Linked DNA regions of Homo sapiens. The protein of the gene in region 1 purifies or fractionates together with the protein of each later gene. This does not show direct contact. Each region holds a gene or a part of one and is shown on either strand. Other genes may lie near its edges.

Region 1 (7,493 bases):
CTGAATGATAATAAAATTACAATCTATCATAATGTGTAAAATAGAACTAATATAGTTTTCTGAGTCAAAATTTTATCTGGCCGGGCGCAGTGGCTCACGCCTGTAATCCCAGCACTTTGGAAGGCCAAGACAGGCGGATCACCTGAGGTCAGGAGTTCAAGACCAGCCTGGCCATAATGGTGAAACCCCGTCTCTACTAAAAATACAAAAATTAGCCGGGTGTGGTGGCGGGTGCCTGTAATCCCAGCTACCTGGGAAGCTGAGGCAGGAGAATTGCTTGAACCCGGGAGGCGGAGGTTGCGGTGAGCCGAGATCATGCCACTGCACTCCAGCCTGGGCGATAGAGCAAGACTCCATCTCAAAAATATATATATATATATCCTTTAATGCTTAAATGTTCTTATTAGCATGAAATAGCTGAATATTGATATTAGGCATCAATATATATTTCAGAAAACAGCAAAAGAAAGTGGAAGAAATCCTAAAGATATAGAAATATGGAAATATAAAGACAAATAGTGCACATTAATACATCTAAAGTTAGACGGTTCGAAGTGTTATTAAAATAGATAAACTGGCAACATCAGTTAAGAATAAAAGAGAAACAGCACAATTAAACAAGGCAGGAAATAACAAGAAGGCACAACTAAAGATTTAGTAGAGATTTGTAAGATAAACTGCTTTGAATAACTTTTTCCTTTTCTATTGAATATGATGAAGTGAAAGTTTTCATAGAAAAATGTAAAATACAGGACAGGCGCAGTGGCTCATGCCTGTAGTCCCAGCAGTGTGGAAGGCTGAGGCGGGCAGATCGCTTGAGGTCAGGAGTTTGAGACCAGCCTGCCCAACATGGCGAAACCCCATCTCTACTAAAAATACAAAAATTAGCTGGGCGTGGTGGTGTGTGTCTGTAATCCCAGCTACTCTGGAGGCTGAGGCTGGAGAATCACTTAAATCCAGGAGACAGAGATTGCAGTGAGCTGAGATCGCCCCACTGTACTCCAGCCTGGGGGACAGAGTGAGACTTTGTCTCAAAAATTTTTAAAAAAGAAGAAAAACGTAAAATACAAAATCCGAAGGAAAGATAGACTACCTGACTAATTTGTAACCATGAAAGAGGTGGACTCAGCATTTAAAAGTCTTCCCACAAGGAAGACACAAGGCCCACATTGTTTTATATACAAAGTCTACCAAATATTCAAGAAAAGAGAAAATGTATCTTTCAGAAAGTCGGCCAGAGAGCAGAAAAATAGGAAATATTAAACTCATTTTATTGAGTCAACATAATTTTGGTATCATAAGAGAAATGGGCAATTCAAAAAAGGAAAAATTTTTACCAACATTACTCATAATTGAAAATGTAAAAATCTTACCAAAAATTTTGCAAGTAGAAAAGTCCACAAAAACATATATCATGACCAAACTTATCCTGGAAAAAAATGTTAGGTCAACATGGGAACATATATTAATGTAATTATAACATAATTCGTTAAAAGAGATAAACTATAATTTTCTTAGTAGATGTAAATAAAACAGATAACTTTCTACATCTATTCATCATGATTTCAACACTTGCAAATCTAGAAATAGAAGAAAATTTTTTTTATCAATCTAGAAATAGGAGAGACTCTGCTTAATCTGATAAAAAGATATCTAAAGATACTTGCAGCAAACATCATACAAAATAATAAGCCACCTAATTTTTTAAATACATACCGAAAACATTATACATAATGTGTCATTTAAAATCATAACATAGGCCGGGCGCGGTGGCTCACGCCTGTAATCCCAGCACTTTGGGAGGCCGAGGCAGGTGGATCATGAGGTCAGGAGATCGAGACCATCCTGGCTAACAAGGTGAAACCCCGTCTCTACTAAAAATACAAAAAATTAGCCGGGCGCGGTGGCGGGCGCCTGTAGTCCCAGCTACTCGGGAGGCTGAGGCAGGAGAATGGCGTGAACCCGGGAAGCGGAGCTTGCAGTGAGCCGAGATTGCGCCACTGCAGTCCGCAGTCCGGCCTGGGCGACAGAGCGAGACTCCGTCTCAAAAAAAAATAAAATAAAATAAAAAAATAAAATAAAATAAAATAAAATCATAACATAAGGAGATTGCATTAAACACTTCTGTTCCACATTATATTAGAGTACTGTTACTATTAGCAGCCACTTCAATAAGGGAAGAAAATGTAAAAGTTATAACTTTTAGAAAGAAAAAAATTAAATGGCCATTGTTCACAGTTTATATGATGATATAAACGGAAAATTTAGAAAAATTTACAGACAAATTCTTTCAACTCATAAAGGAATCCATCGTGTTCATGAAAAATGAGAGGAATAAACAAAATCTAATAAAATGTTTACAAAATCTTATTGAAGGGTATTATAAAACTGTATTAAAAGACACTAATGAAAACTAAAATAAGAGAACAAACATAACACCTTTCAGATAAGAAGATGCATGTTTTTAAAGATACCAGTTCTCCTAGAATTGCTGTACAGATTCAATACAATTCCATAGAAAAATCTCAGCACATTTTTTGGTTTGTTTGTTTTTTGAGATGAGCTGTCACTCTGTCACCCATGCTGGAGTATAGTGGTGCAATCATGGCTCATTGCAACCTCAATTTCCCATGCTCAAGCAATCCTCCCACCTCAGCCTCCCAAGTAGCTGGGACCACAGGTGTGCACCACCATGCCTGGCTAATTTTTTTTAATTTTAAATATTTTTATAGATGGGGGGGGGTCTCACTTTGTTGCCTAGACTGGTCTCGAACTCCTGTCCTTAAGAAATCCTCCCGGCCAGGCGCGGTGGCTCATGCCTGTAATCCCAGCACTTTGGGAGGCCGAGACGGGAGGATCACGAGGTTAGGAGATCGAGACCATCCTGGCTAACATGGTGAAACCCCATCTCTACTAAAAATACAAAAAATTAGCTAGGCGTGGTGGCGGGCGCCTGTAGTCCCAGCCACTCAGGAGGCTGAGGAAGGAGAATGGCGTGAACCCGGGAGGCAGAGGTTGCAGTGAGCCGAGATCGCGCCACTGCACTCCTCCCTGGGCAACAGAGCGAGACTCTGTCTCAACAAAACAAAACAAAACAAAACAAAACAAAGAAATCTAAAGGAGAAAAGAATAAACATTACCTTTAAAAAAAAAAAGAAATCCTCCCACTTTGGCCTCCCAAACTGCTGGGTTTATAGGCATGAGCCACTGCACCTGGCCCAGAGTTTTCTTAAAGCCTAACAAGTCAATTCCAAAGTTTATGTGGCAAAACAAATAGCCAAGAATTGCTAAGATACAGTGGAATAAGAGCAAGCTAAGAAGCTTAGTCTTATCTCAGAGACATATCCCAAAGCTTTGAAGATTAAGCCAATTAAAATTATTGGCACAGAGATAACCCTATGGATCAATGAGAGAGAACAAAGAGCCCAGAAACAAATCCAAGCTTGAACATGAGGTACACAGAGGTGACCTTGCATGTGTGGCAGTGTGTAAAGCAAGGTCCACTCAACAAACATTGCCAGCACAGTCAACACCTGCTTAGAAGAAGATGACATTGAACTTCTGCCTCATTAGACATAGACACACACACACACACACACACGTGTGTGTGTATATATATATATATATATATATATATGAAATCCAGATGGATCAAGACTTATAAAGAAATGCAAAGCTTTAACGCGCACACACACACACACGTGAATATATATATATATATATATATATATATATATATGAAATCCGGATGGATCAAGATGTTTATAGAAATGCAAAGCTTTAAATCTGTGGAAGAAATGAGAGAAAAATGTTTTCATCTTGGGGTACTGGGGGATTCCTTAAATGGGCGTAAAATTGTCTTACCTGCTTAGCTATCACTAAGGGTCTGTGGGACTGTTTTTCAGAGACGTTTTTCCAGCCCTCACCTTGGCGCCTGGCTTCTATTTTACTCGGGTTACTCTGTGGTGCCCTGTGTGGTGTTGTCATGGGGATGATAATTGTTTTCTTCAAATCCAAAGGTAAGTGAGAGAGAGAAGCATGGGCCCATACCTTCTTCATGGTTCCAGTGGAGCTGATATCAGGCTGCCCTCACACACCTCTGGGCTCTGCTCTTCCAGCCCTAGGCCTACAGGGGCCACCAGCTGAGGCACAGGGAACCCAGTCTTCAGCCTCCTCTGTGCTGGCCTGAAATGGCTCCTTCAGAAAATGCCAGCCTCTGCCAATCCCTTTCTACTTTACATGGAGCACAGGATAAGCAGATAATTGATTTTCAGTACATAAAGAGTTCACATAAATTTCTACCAACAGGCTGAGTGCCGTGGCTCGTGTCTGTAATCCCAGCACTTTGGGAGGCCGATGTGGGAGGATCACTTGAGCCCAGGAGTGTAAGACCATCCTGGGCAACATGGCGAGAACTCCTCTCTACAAAAAATTTTTAAAAAATAAAATAAAATAATTAGCTGGGTGTGGTGGTGCGTGACTGTGGTCCCAGCTACTTAGGAGGTTGAGATGGGAGGATGGCTTGAGCACAGGAGGTCAAGGCTTTAGTGAGCCATGTTCGCACCACTGCACATCAGCCTGGGCAACAGAGTGAGACCCTGACTCAATAAATAAATATATAAAAATAAATAAATTTCTACTAACGACAACAAGAGACAATAAGAAAATTTCAGGGTGGTTGCAAAGACTTCATAGAAGAGGAAATAAAACTGACTGACTGAGATAAAATGATAATCTCAGTAAGAGTCTTCACCCTAGAACAAATTTCCTCCTCCTTGGGAGTGACACTTCCCCTTGGGGGTGAGGCCACCCCCGCCTCCCCTCCCAGCCGCCTTCTCCCATCTCCATCCCCACCTCCACAGCATCCCAGCTGTTGTCCCTCTCCTTAGCATGCACCTTCCTGATCTCTTGCTCCACCCCAGAGAGCCACACTCCGTGCAGGGGCTGGGGAGACGAGCACATATAAGTGTCCTAGGAGAGGCCCTGCCCTTCACACCTGCAGCTCGTCCCACCTGTGCAAGGAGCCAGCGTCGTGTTTGTACCTTGCACACTCCTGTGTCCACCACTGAATATACTGTTTCTGTTTCAGGGAAAATCCAGGCGGAACTGGGTATGTGTCATGTCCTGAGCCTCCCACACATGGTTCTCCCGGGTCCCTCCCTGATCCACAGTTTGAGCCTCTGGACGACCCTGGCTGCAGGCTGGACAGGAAGCACCGGCAGGTGGAGGGGAGCAGCTGCTCACTCTCTCCATCCACTGCTCATGAGTTACCCCTCGGACATCTGGAGGGCTTAGGATAGGCCCCGGGGCCTGGAAGTCCCCACAAATTGTCTGTGCCTGTTGCCCGTTGGTTTGCTGTGTGTGTGGTGGGGGGAGGTGTTGATCATGAGCTCTGAGGGTGTCTGGGCCACAGTGAGGAACCTGAGAAAAATTTGTGGGTGATCCTCGACCTCCCCTGGCCTGATGCTTTGAGACTTTATCCAGTTCTGTATCAACCACTAAATAGTCTGCTTTTTGTTTTGTGGGAACTCCAGGATAAACTGGGTGAGAGTGTTACCACTCGCAGGGATTCCCTCCCACGCCCTCCCTGGGCCCCCGCTCTGTGACGTCAGCCTCTTACATGTTTTTTGTTTTTGTTTTTGTTTTTCAGACTGGAGAAGAAAGCACGGACAGGCAGGTAAAAGAAAATATTCCTCTTCACACATTTATGACTCCTTTCCAAGTCTCTCGTTTATGGATTTTTATATCCTGAGGCCCGTGGGTCCCTGCAGAGCCAAGCTTGTGATGGGAACTCTGAAATTGCAGATTCTGGGGGAGGTGCATTTTGTAGAGAAGCCCCATAGCCTTCTTCAGATCTCTGGAGGGTCCACAACACTCAAAAAGGGTCCCAATCCTTGGTCTTTCCCTTCTCCCTGCGCCCTGTTTCCCACGTGAGCACGGAACTGCCTGCTCTCTCTGCTTGCTTTCAGAATTGAGAGACGCCCGGAAACACGCAGGTACCAACGCCTGAGAGGGTAACAGTGGGCATGGAGTAGGAAGATGACCAGTGACAGATATGGAGCCCATCCAGCTTGTAGACAGCAAATCTGTGATGCCCGAATCCACCCCAGGGTGCAGCTGCCTCTAAATACACTTCTTGGCCCAGGACTTGGAGGGAAAAGCGTAGGGACTGGGTCAGCTAGGAGGGGTCACAGGCAAGACGCCAGGGAACTGAGGGCATTAGTAGCTGGCTTCTAGGGGTCTGTGCAAAGGGGAACTAAGTGAAGTTAGCAGGAACTGGTGGGTGGAAGGAAGCTGAATCCTGGAGTCACTCAAGGTCTCACAAAGTCAAATAGAGGGCTTACGTGGGAGGGCAGTGGTAGGGCTGGGTGAACATCTCATGGTTGAGCATCTCCAAGCATCAGTGAGGCACGGGGGCTGCCCTGGAGAAGGTACATGGCTGGTGGGATAGTGGGACTGGCCGGATCCTACCCGGAGCCAGTCTGCAGTGGGAGGGTCGACCTCTTGCTCCAGCCCAGATTTCGTCTTCAGTAACTCATGCTTCCTCTCTCCCCCACCGCACCCCAGTGGAGGTGACTCTGGATCCAGAGACGGCTCACCCGAAGCTCTGCGTTTCTGATCTGAAAACTGTAACCCATAGAAAAGCTCCCCAGGAGGTGCCTCACTCTGAGAAGAGATTTACAAGGAAGAGTGTGGTGGCTTCTCAGGGTTTCCAAGCAGGGAAACATTACTGGGAGGTGGACGTGGGACAAAATGTAGGGTGGTATGTGGGAGTGTGTCGGGATGACGTAGACAGGGGGAAGAACAATGTGACTTTGTCTCCCAACAATGGGTATTGGGTCCTCAGACTGACAACAGAACATTTGTATTTCACATTCAATCCCCATTTTATCAGCCTCCCCCCCAGCACCCCTCCTACACGAGTAGGGGTCTTCCTGGACTATGAGGGTGGGACCATCTCCTTCTTCAATACAAATGACCAGTCCCTTATTTATACCCTGCTGACATGTCAGTTTGAAGGCTTGTTGAGACCCTATATCCAGCATGCGATGTATGACGAGGAAAAGGGGACTCCCATATTCATATGTCCAGTGTCCTGGGGATGAGACAGAGAAGACCCTGCTTAAAGGGCCCCACACCACAGACCCAGACACAGCCAAGGGAGAGTGCTCCCGACAGGTGGCCCCAGCTTCCTCTCCGGAGCCTGCGCACAGAGAGTCACGCCCCCCACTCTCCTTTAGGGAGCTGAGGTTCTTCTGCCCTGAGCCCTGCAGCAGCGGCAGTCACAGCTTCCAGATGAGGGGGGATTGGCCTGACCCTGTGGGAGTCAGAAGCCATGGCTGCCCTGAAGTGGGGACGGAATAGACTCACATTAGGTTTAGTTTGTGAAAACTCCATCCAGCTAAGCGATCTTGAACAAGTCACAACCTCCCAGGCTCCTCATTTGCTAGTCACGGACAGTGATTCCTGCCTCACAGGTGAAGATTAAAGAG
Region 2 (8,398 bases), on another chromosome or scaffold:
ACAGGCATGTGCCACCATGTCCAGCTAATTTTTGTATTTTTAGTAGAGACAGGGTTTCTGCCATGTTGGCCAGGTTGGTCTTGAACTCCTGGCCTCAAGTGATCAGTCTGCCCTGGCTTCCCAAAGTGCTGGGATTACAGGCATGAGCCACTGCGTCCGGCCTATTCCACAATCTTTTGCAATACCCATTGTTGCTACCAATAATCACTTGACCATGTAAAATTTCTTCCCTACTGACATTCCATCCCATGTCACCACTGGCAATAATTTGAATAATCTTGCTGTCATTGCATGCTACACATTATCACTATCAAGAATGAATCTCATCATGAGGTTGTCAAATATGTGTTTAAACTGGTCCTAGAATTCCAACTTGAGGAACTGTTTCTGGGAGCCACTCCTTGTGCCAACTAGAGTCAGGTCTGACAGTAAACAGTATCTCACTCCAATGGTTCAAAAGATTTTAAGGAAGAAACTATATACAAAAGTGTGGGGAGGATTAAGGGAACCAATAAAGGATGCTGAAGTCTCCAGAGACTACCAACAGGGGAAACCATTGTCACTCCTAGGTCTGAAGGGGCAAGGAGAGAAAATATTACTGTTGCTCAGAGAGGGTTGGAGGATCATAGGAGGAAGTTCTACCTCAAAAGCTATATATATAGTGGGATGTAGCTCCTGCCAGCAAATATGGCTCAGAGCTGACAGGGAGCAAAACAGGAGGCTTCTAAAGCTGCTCTCTTCTCAGCCTTAGCCTATTGATGCCTCTTGGTGGAATTAGAAGCAAGCTCATAAGAAGCCCAGGTGGCGTAGTCTGAAGGAATGAACATCAGTGGTGACAGTTGCATGGTAGACACACCTGACAGTGATAACGTAAGCATACCCTGAGAATGACCCTATATTCTAAGAAGATTGTGTGTTCACAATTCCAATCTAAGGAATCTAGTAGTAGCCAACCAGAGATTCATTTGGAGGTTGTTGTCAGCTGGGACTCCAAACTGCACTCCAAAGCTGGGACTCACCACTGCACTCCAAACCTGGGTCACAAAGTGAGACTCCGTCTCAAAAAAGAAAATTAAGGCCAGATGCGGTGGTTCACGCCTGTAATCCCAGCACTTTGGGAGGCCAAGGCAGGTGGATCACGAGGTCAGGAGTTCGAGACCAGCCTGGCCAATATGGTGAAACCCCGTCTCTACTAAAAATACAAAAATTAGCCGGACGTGGTGTCGCGTGCCTGTGGTCTGAGCTACTCAGGAGGCTGAGGCAGGAACATCACTTGAACCTGGGAGGCGGAGGTTGCAGTAGGCCGAGATTGTGCCACTGCACTCCACCCTGGACGACAGATGGAGACTCCATCTCAAAAAAAAAAAAAAAAGAAAAAAAAAGAAAAAAAAAATAAATACATTTGTAGGAGTTTTTAAAGCCACAGAGTTTAAAACTTTTGTGGTTTTTAGACTTTTTTTAGAGACTAGGTCTCACTATGTCACCCAGGACAGAGGGCAGTAGCACAACCATAGCTCACTATAACCTTGAACTCCTGGGCTCAAGTGAACTTCTGAGTCTCCCAGAGTCCTGGGATTATAGGTGTGAGCCATTGTGTGCGGCCCAAAAACTATTTTTTTTTTTTAGAGACGGAGTCTCGCTCTGTCGCCCAGCCTGGAGTGCAGTGGCACGATCTCAGCTCACTGCAAGCTCCACCTCCCGGGTTCATGCCATTCTCCTGCTTCAGCCTCCTGAGTTGCTGGGACTACAGGCGCCACCACCACGCCCAGCTAATTCTTTTTTGTATTTTTAGTAGAGACAGGGTTTCACCATGTTAGCCAGGATGGTCTCGATCTCCTGACCTCGTGATCTGCCCGCCTCGGCCTCCCAAAGTGCTGAGATTACAGGCATGAGCCACCACGCCTGGCCCCAAAAACTATTTTTTAATTCAACATGAGTACATGTTGAAGAGAAGAAGTATGACAGGTGATGAAGAAAATTACTTTCAAGGATAAAAATAATTTCATTAGAATAAAATTCTGTCGGATAAGTGCAATAAAAATAAGTTCAGAAAAAGGAACCATGGAAAATTTCCAGTTGTTCACAAAAAGTGTATGGGTTTTTTGTTTTGTTTTGTTTTGTTTTGGGTTTTGTTTTTGTCCAGGCTGGAGTGCAGTGGCGCCATTTTGGCTCACTGCAACTTCTGCCTCCCGGGTTCAAGTGATTCTCCTGCCTCAGCCTCCTGAGAAGCTGGGATTACAGGCGCATGCCACCACACCCAGCTAATTTTTGTAATTTTAGTAGAGGCGGGGTTTCCCCATGTTGACCAGGCTGATCTTGAAGTCCTGACCTCAAGTGATCTGACCGCCTCCGCCTCCCAAAGTGCTGGGAATACAGGTGGAGCCACCGTACCTGGCCAAGTTTGTGTGTTTTTAAAAAAAGTCTTATAGTTATCACATCACTATTATATTTACATTCCTTTTCATACACTTAAAAGAGAGCTGTAACAATTTCAAAACGTGAATATTTATAATATGACAGAAATTTAATCCTTTAAAGTCAAGATAAAAATTTTAGATGTCAATACAAAAAATGTGTGAAAAGATATATATGTGTGTATGTGTATATATATATTATATATATATTATTTATATATGCTTTTAGGGAGTATCTGGGCAAAACGTTTTAGGAACACAGGAAGAGGAGGTAGATGTCTAGTTTAGAGACTCACACTATAAAATATGGTGCCCTGACAATTTCTGGAATTTTTGTCTCTTTTTTACAGCCCTCAAAGTTCAGAGAGTCTCAGGATGTAGGTCAATTTAGGACTAAAAGAGAATTCTAGATATCTTGAAGGATTGGTACCTAAGATTACGGTACCTAAGATTACGGTTATATGGCTACCTTATGCAGTTAAAACTCTTATGTTTGGCCGGGCGGGGTGGTTCACGCTTGTAATCTCAGCACTTTGGGAGGCCCAGAGGGGCGAATCACGAGGTCAGGAGTTAAAGACCAGCCTGGCCAACATGGTGAAACCCATCTCTACTAAAAATACAAAAATTAGCTGGGCATGGTGGCGCGTGCCTGTAATCCCAGCTACTCGGGAGGGTGAGGCAGGAGAATTGCTTGAACCTGGGAGGCGGAGGTTGCAGTGAGCCGAGATCCCGTCACTGCACTCTAGCCTGGGCTACAGAGGGAGACTACGTCTCAAAAACAAACAAACAAAACAAACAAACAAAAAACTCTTACATTTACTGTTTTGAAAACCTATTGGGAACATCAGTTTGACAAGAAATATCTTTAAAATTCTGAACAAGAGACTTAAAAATGAACTTTGAACATACGACAGTTTAAAGCACATTTATATGCAGAGAAAGACTTAAAAATACAATTTCTGCCAAGTGAAATATTAAACAGCATGTTTCATTATATTTGCTATAGATGCCAAAAGAGTTGCCATTTTCAATGAGGTATGTTTCCTGCTTATGTAACAGTCATTTATCATAGAAGCTGTAAAATGCAATCTGGAATTTCTCTTGCCAAATTGCTGCCTGTTCTTGACATTTTATATTATTAAAGCTATAAAATCTATAAATACTTTTAGCACACTTTCACTAAAAGCAGCACTAGTAAGTAGCAGGCCTTGTCTTGTATTTCAGTAGCCACGTCAAAACTTCTGAGCCAGGCGAAATAGAAAGAGGGGTCCTAGGGTATTTTATGCCCAGGGCAACAAACGCCAAATGCTGACGTAGATAGCACTTATTCGGTTTTGCCAGGAGCTGTGCTAAGTGATTTTCATAAAATATGTAATTTAACCTACAGGCAACTCCATGTGGTATTATTTTCACTTTTTTACATAGAAGGAAATGGAAGCTTAGAAAACTGAAGCAATTTACCGAAAGTCAGAGTTAACAGAGCAAGGAAACCTGAACAGTGTGCAGCCTCCGCTCACCAGAAAGTGTCAAAGAATCACATTTACTAGTACTTCAGACAGAAATTCTGCGAAACAAGGCGTATCTACTCTTGTTTTACTCCCAGACACTTCCCTGTCCCGCTTAGATCAGTGGTGGTTTTCACTCAAATTTAAGTGTGTAACAGTGTCCCCGGGAGGGCTCTGTTCAAACAGATTGTTGTACGCGCCCCCTACCCCTGCCCACCCCGAGTGTTTGATTCAGTAGGTCTAGTTTGGGATCGAGAATCTTTTTATTTTGTTTTCCTTTTGTTTTGTTTTGTTTTGTTTTTGAGACAGGGTCTCGCCCTGTCGCCCAGGCTGGAGTGCAGTCGTGCCATCTCGGCTCACTGTAGCCTCTGCCTCCCCGGCTAAAGTGATCCTCCAGCCTCAGCCTCCGGAGCAGCTGGGGCCACAGGCAAGCGCCACCACTGTAGGCTAATTTTTTTTTTTTTTTTTTTTTTTTTTTTGTAGAGACTGGGGTCTCACTATGTTGCCCACGCTGGTCTCAAACTCCTGGGCTCAAGCGATCCTCCCGCTTCAGCCTCCCAAGGTGCTGGGATTACAGGTGGAGCCACCGCGCCCGGCATCGATAATCTGAATCTCTAACGAGCTCCCGGGCGACGTTGATGCAGCTGGTACCGGGACCACTCTTCGAAAATCATCGGTTTAGAGGTTTTAATTCTGAATCCATTGCGAAAACTGTTGGGCGGACAGAGCACTACTAACTCCTAACTTTTCTCAGAAAGCTGGGCTCTGCTTTCGCCAGCAACCCGGTCCGAAGTCGCGGGCATATTCTGTCTGAAATCGTGTGCACCGAAATCCCCGCCTTGCGGTGGAGGCTGGCGCTAGGCGGCCTCAGCCTCGGCCTGCTGCGCTCAGGAACCCGCGCCCCGGCTCCTCGGCGATCCATTGCTCTTTCCTCTGGCGCCGGCCGCAGGCCTCGGTCACGCCCCCAGCGGCCCGTTGGTTTCCGGGTCCCGCGGGGTGCCCCCGCCCACACGCTATGCCTTAAATTGGGCCAGGCTGAGGCGCTGCTGCTGGAGCGGCCGATCCGAGACGTGGCTCCCTGGGCGGCAGAACCATGTTGGACTTCGCGATCTTCGCCGTTACCTTCTTGCTGGCGTTGGTGGGAGCCGTGCTCTACCTCTATCCGGTGAGCGCCGTCTTGGCTCTCTGGGGCCCCGGGCGCCGCCCCAGTCTCTCTGTCGCCGGCATCCAGGCCAACCTGCCCGCTGCGGGCCGCAGGGGGCGGGCCTGAGAGGAGGGTTCGGGTTCGCTCCAGAGCTTCAGCGCGGGGACCGCACCCGGAGTCACGTGACGCCCCTCCCGGCAAGCTCTGAGAGCGACGTGGGCTGCGTCGCTACCCCTCAGGCGCCGGGCCAGGCGGGCGTAGAGCTGCTGAGGAAAAGCCCGCGCCCCCGCAGGCCGGTCTCACCTTGCCAGGCACCCCGCGCCACTCTCCAAGGCGGCTCTCAAGTACTTTGGGCAGCTTTTTGGCCATAACTCGCCAAACCCAAATTTCATTTCCCAGTGTGTCAGGACGAGACTCCTGGGCGCGCCACTCCTTTCTCCTTTCTTGAGGATTCTCCCAGCACTTGTGTATTCCTCTTTTCCATCTGTCCATCGATCTATCCTGACTGGAATCCAAAGTGCTCGAGGTCCAGGTCTTGCTCCTCTTAGGGGCTCCAGGCAAATGCTTCTTTGGGGAGAGCGCCGCGCTGCGGGTTCGGGTGCGAGGTTTCCTCTGCCGCTGACGCCTCTGCGAGCCTCCGGTCCTCCTCTCTCCACTTGCCTCCGTCAGCGAGAGAGGGAGGGTCTGAAAACAAAAGTGTTGATGACTGAGGACCGTCTTTAAAACCTGTTCTACACACTTTGGGAGGCTGAGGCGGGCGGATCACGAGGTCAGGATATCGAGACCATCCTGGCCAACATGGTGACACACCGTCTCTACTAAAAATACAAACATTAGCTGGCTGTGGTGGCGGGCGCCTGTAATCCCAGCTACTCAGGAGGCTGAGGCAGGAGAATCGCTTGAACCTGGGAGGCGGAGCTTGCAGTGAGCCAAGATCGCACCACTGCACTGCAGCCTGGCGACAGAGCCAGACTCTTATCTCAAAACAAACAAACAAACAAACAAAAAACACCTGTTCTACAAAGCAAGGTGGTGGTTTTACAGTGAAAGTTGAAAAGTAGCTGAACTGCTGGAATTGACCATACACCTTCTTAAATGTTCTTTTCCGAGCAGGTAAATGGATTAGACTAGAATCTTGCAACTACACAATCAGGGACTTCCTGAAATCTTATTTTCTGAGAAACTAAACAATTTTAGTGGTTCTTGAATTTTTGGTGATTTTAAAATGATACTCTTCTTTGATCAGCTCATAGAAGCACACTGTTTATTCTTAGCACTAGCTATGTGCCAGATATGGTTCCACGTGCTGGGAATCCAGCCGTGAAACAAACCGGACAGAAAATTCCTGACTCTTGGAATTTATTTCCTAGAGAAGGGGAACAGACAATAGAAACAAATAACATAGGATTGTGGGTAGAAATAAAGTTGGGGATAGGTAGATTGTTATTTTAAAGTAGGATGGCCAGGAGATACGGAGACATTTGAGTAGAAACGCGAAGAAGGTGAAGGTGCAAGCCATTCTGAGAAAGAGCATTCTGGGTCGAGGGAGCAGCAAATGCAAACCTTCAGAGGGAGACACGCCTGGTGTGTTCCTGGAAAGCAAGGGGACCAGTGTGGTTAGAGTGTAGTAAATGAGGAAGATACCAGAGGAGAGAAAGTCAGAAAGATGGGAGTGAAGGACAAATTTTAAATGACTTGTAAGGCTTTTTTAATGGACTTTTGCTGTGTGCCACTGGAGGATTTCAGCAGATGAATGCCATTTGAAATTGGATAGAATTCAAATTTAATTTTATTAGATAAATTTTAAAAGAATCATTGTGGTTGCTAAGTCATGAATTGACATGGGTCTCCAGGTAAGGATGGAAGCAAGCCAAGTAATTAGGAGGATATTATCATTTCAGCTTGGATCATGGTAGTAGTGGCACAGATAATGAGAACTAGTCAATTGTGAAGATAGTGCCAATGGGATTTCCCAGTGGATTGGATGTGAAATGTGAAAGAGAGGCATCAAGGAAAACACCAGTTATTTTTAGCCTGGTATCTGGAAGGATAGATTAATTCCAGGGAAGATCAGGGGTTTTGCTGGTGGTGGTTGTTCTTTAGTTTTGTTTTGGTGGGAGGTAGTGGGGATTTATAGAGATTAGGAGTTGGTTTTGGGTGGGCTAGGTTTGAGATGCCTGTTAGACATTCAAGTGGAGATGTTGAGGAGTAACTGAATATATGTCTTGAGTTTATGGGAAAAGTCCAGGCTGAAGATACACATTTGGGAGCTATCAATGTATAGATGGTATTTAAAGCGAGGAGAACTGGTTGCTATCTCCCAGACAATTTAGATACAGGAGAGAAGAGGTCCCAGGGACCATTCCCTGGATTCTCCAATGTTAATGGTTGAGGAGAGAAAGAAGAGCCAGCAAAGGAGACTGAGAAGGAGCAGCCACACAAATAGAAGGAAGCCAGATGTTTTAAGCAGAAGAGGATAATCAGCTAAGTCAAATGCTGCAGATATTTTAAGTTAAGGCCTAATAATTTGATAACATTGGTAATCTTTATTTTTTGTTTTGTTTCATTTAAGAGACAGAGTCTCACTCTTGCCCAGGCTACAGTGCAGTGGTACCATCATAGCTCATTGTAACCTCAAACTCCTGGCCCCAGGCGATCCTCGCACCTTAGCCTCTCAAGTTGCTGGGACTACATGCTCATGCCACCACACCTGGCTAATTTTTAAATTTTTTATTTTTTATTTTTTGATACAAAGTCTCGCTCTGTCGCCCAGGCTGGAGTGCAGTGGCATGATCTCTGCTCACTGCAGCCTCTGCCTCCCAGGTTCAAGCGATTCTTCTGCCTCAGCCTCCCAAGTAGCTGGGACTGCAGGCACACATCACCACACACAGCTAATTTTTTTATTTTTAGTAGAGACAAGATTTCACCGTGTTGGCCAGGCTGGTTTCGAACTCCTGACCTCAAGTGATCTGCCCACCTTGGCCTCCCAAAGCACTGGGATTACAGGCATGAGCCACCGTGCCCAACCTAATTTTTTAATTTTTTAATTTTTTATAGAAATGGGGTCCTGCTTTGTTGCCCAGGCTGGTCTCGAACTTCTGGGCTGAAGTGATCCTCCTGCCTCAGCCTTCCAAAGATCTGGGATTACAGGCATGAGCCACCGCAACATTTGTAATCTTAAGAAGAGCGGTTTCAGTGTAATTGGGGTGATAAACCTAAATGGTGTGGATTCAGAGATATCAAGTATAGATAGCTCTTTAGAGTTTTGCAGTAAAGGGGGCTGATAACTAGAGAAGGAAGTGAGGTGAATTTCTCTTAAGGTAGGAGAAATTACA

Evidence for each region. The genes of interacting proteins can lie anywhere in the genome.
Region 2: the proteins of BTNL3 (region 1) and CYP20A1 purify together in Homo sapiens (affinity purification with mass spectrometry; 2 studies listed by BioGRID and IntAct, with this or other methods). This does not show direct contact.

What each region holds. Positions count from the first base shown.
Region 1 is NC_000005.10:180,998,767-181,006,259, forward strand, and holds part of BTNL3 (butyrophilin-like protein 3 precursor), read left to right. Parts: intron 1-3,905; coding exon 3,906-4,019; intron 4,020-5,089; coding exon 5,090-5,110; intron 5,111-5,650; coding exon 5,651-5,677; intron 5,678-5,969; coding exon 5,970-5,996; intron 5,997-6,567; coding exon 6,568-7,106; 3' UTR 7,107-7,493.
Region 2 is NC_000002.12:203,234,051-203,242,448, forward strand, and holds the start of CYP20A1 (cytochrome P450 20A1), read left to right. Parts: upstream 1-4,967; 5' UTR 4,968-5,012; coding exon 5,013-5,084; intron 5,085-5,290; exon of another isoform or gene 5,291-6,176; intron 6,177-8,398.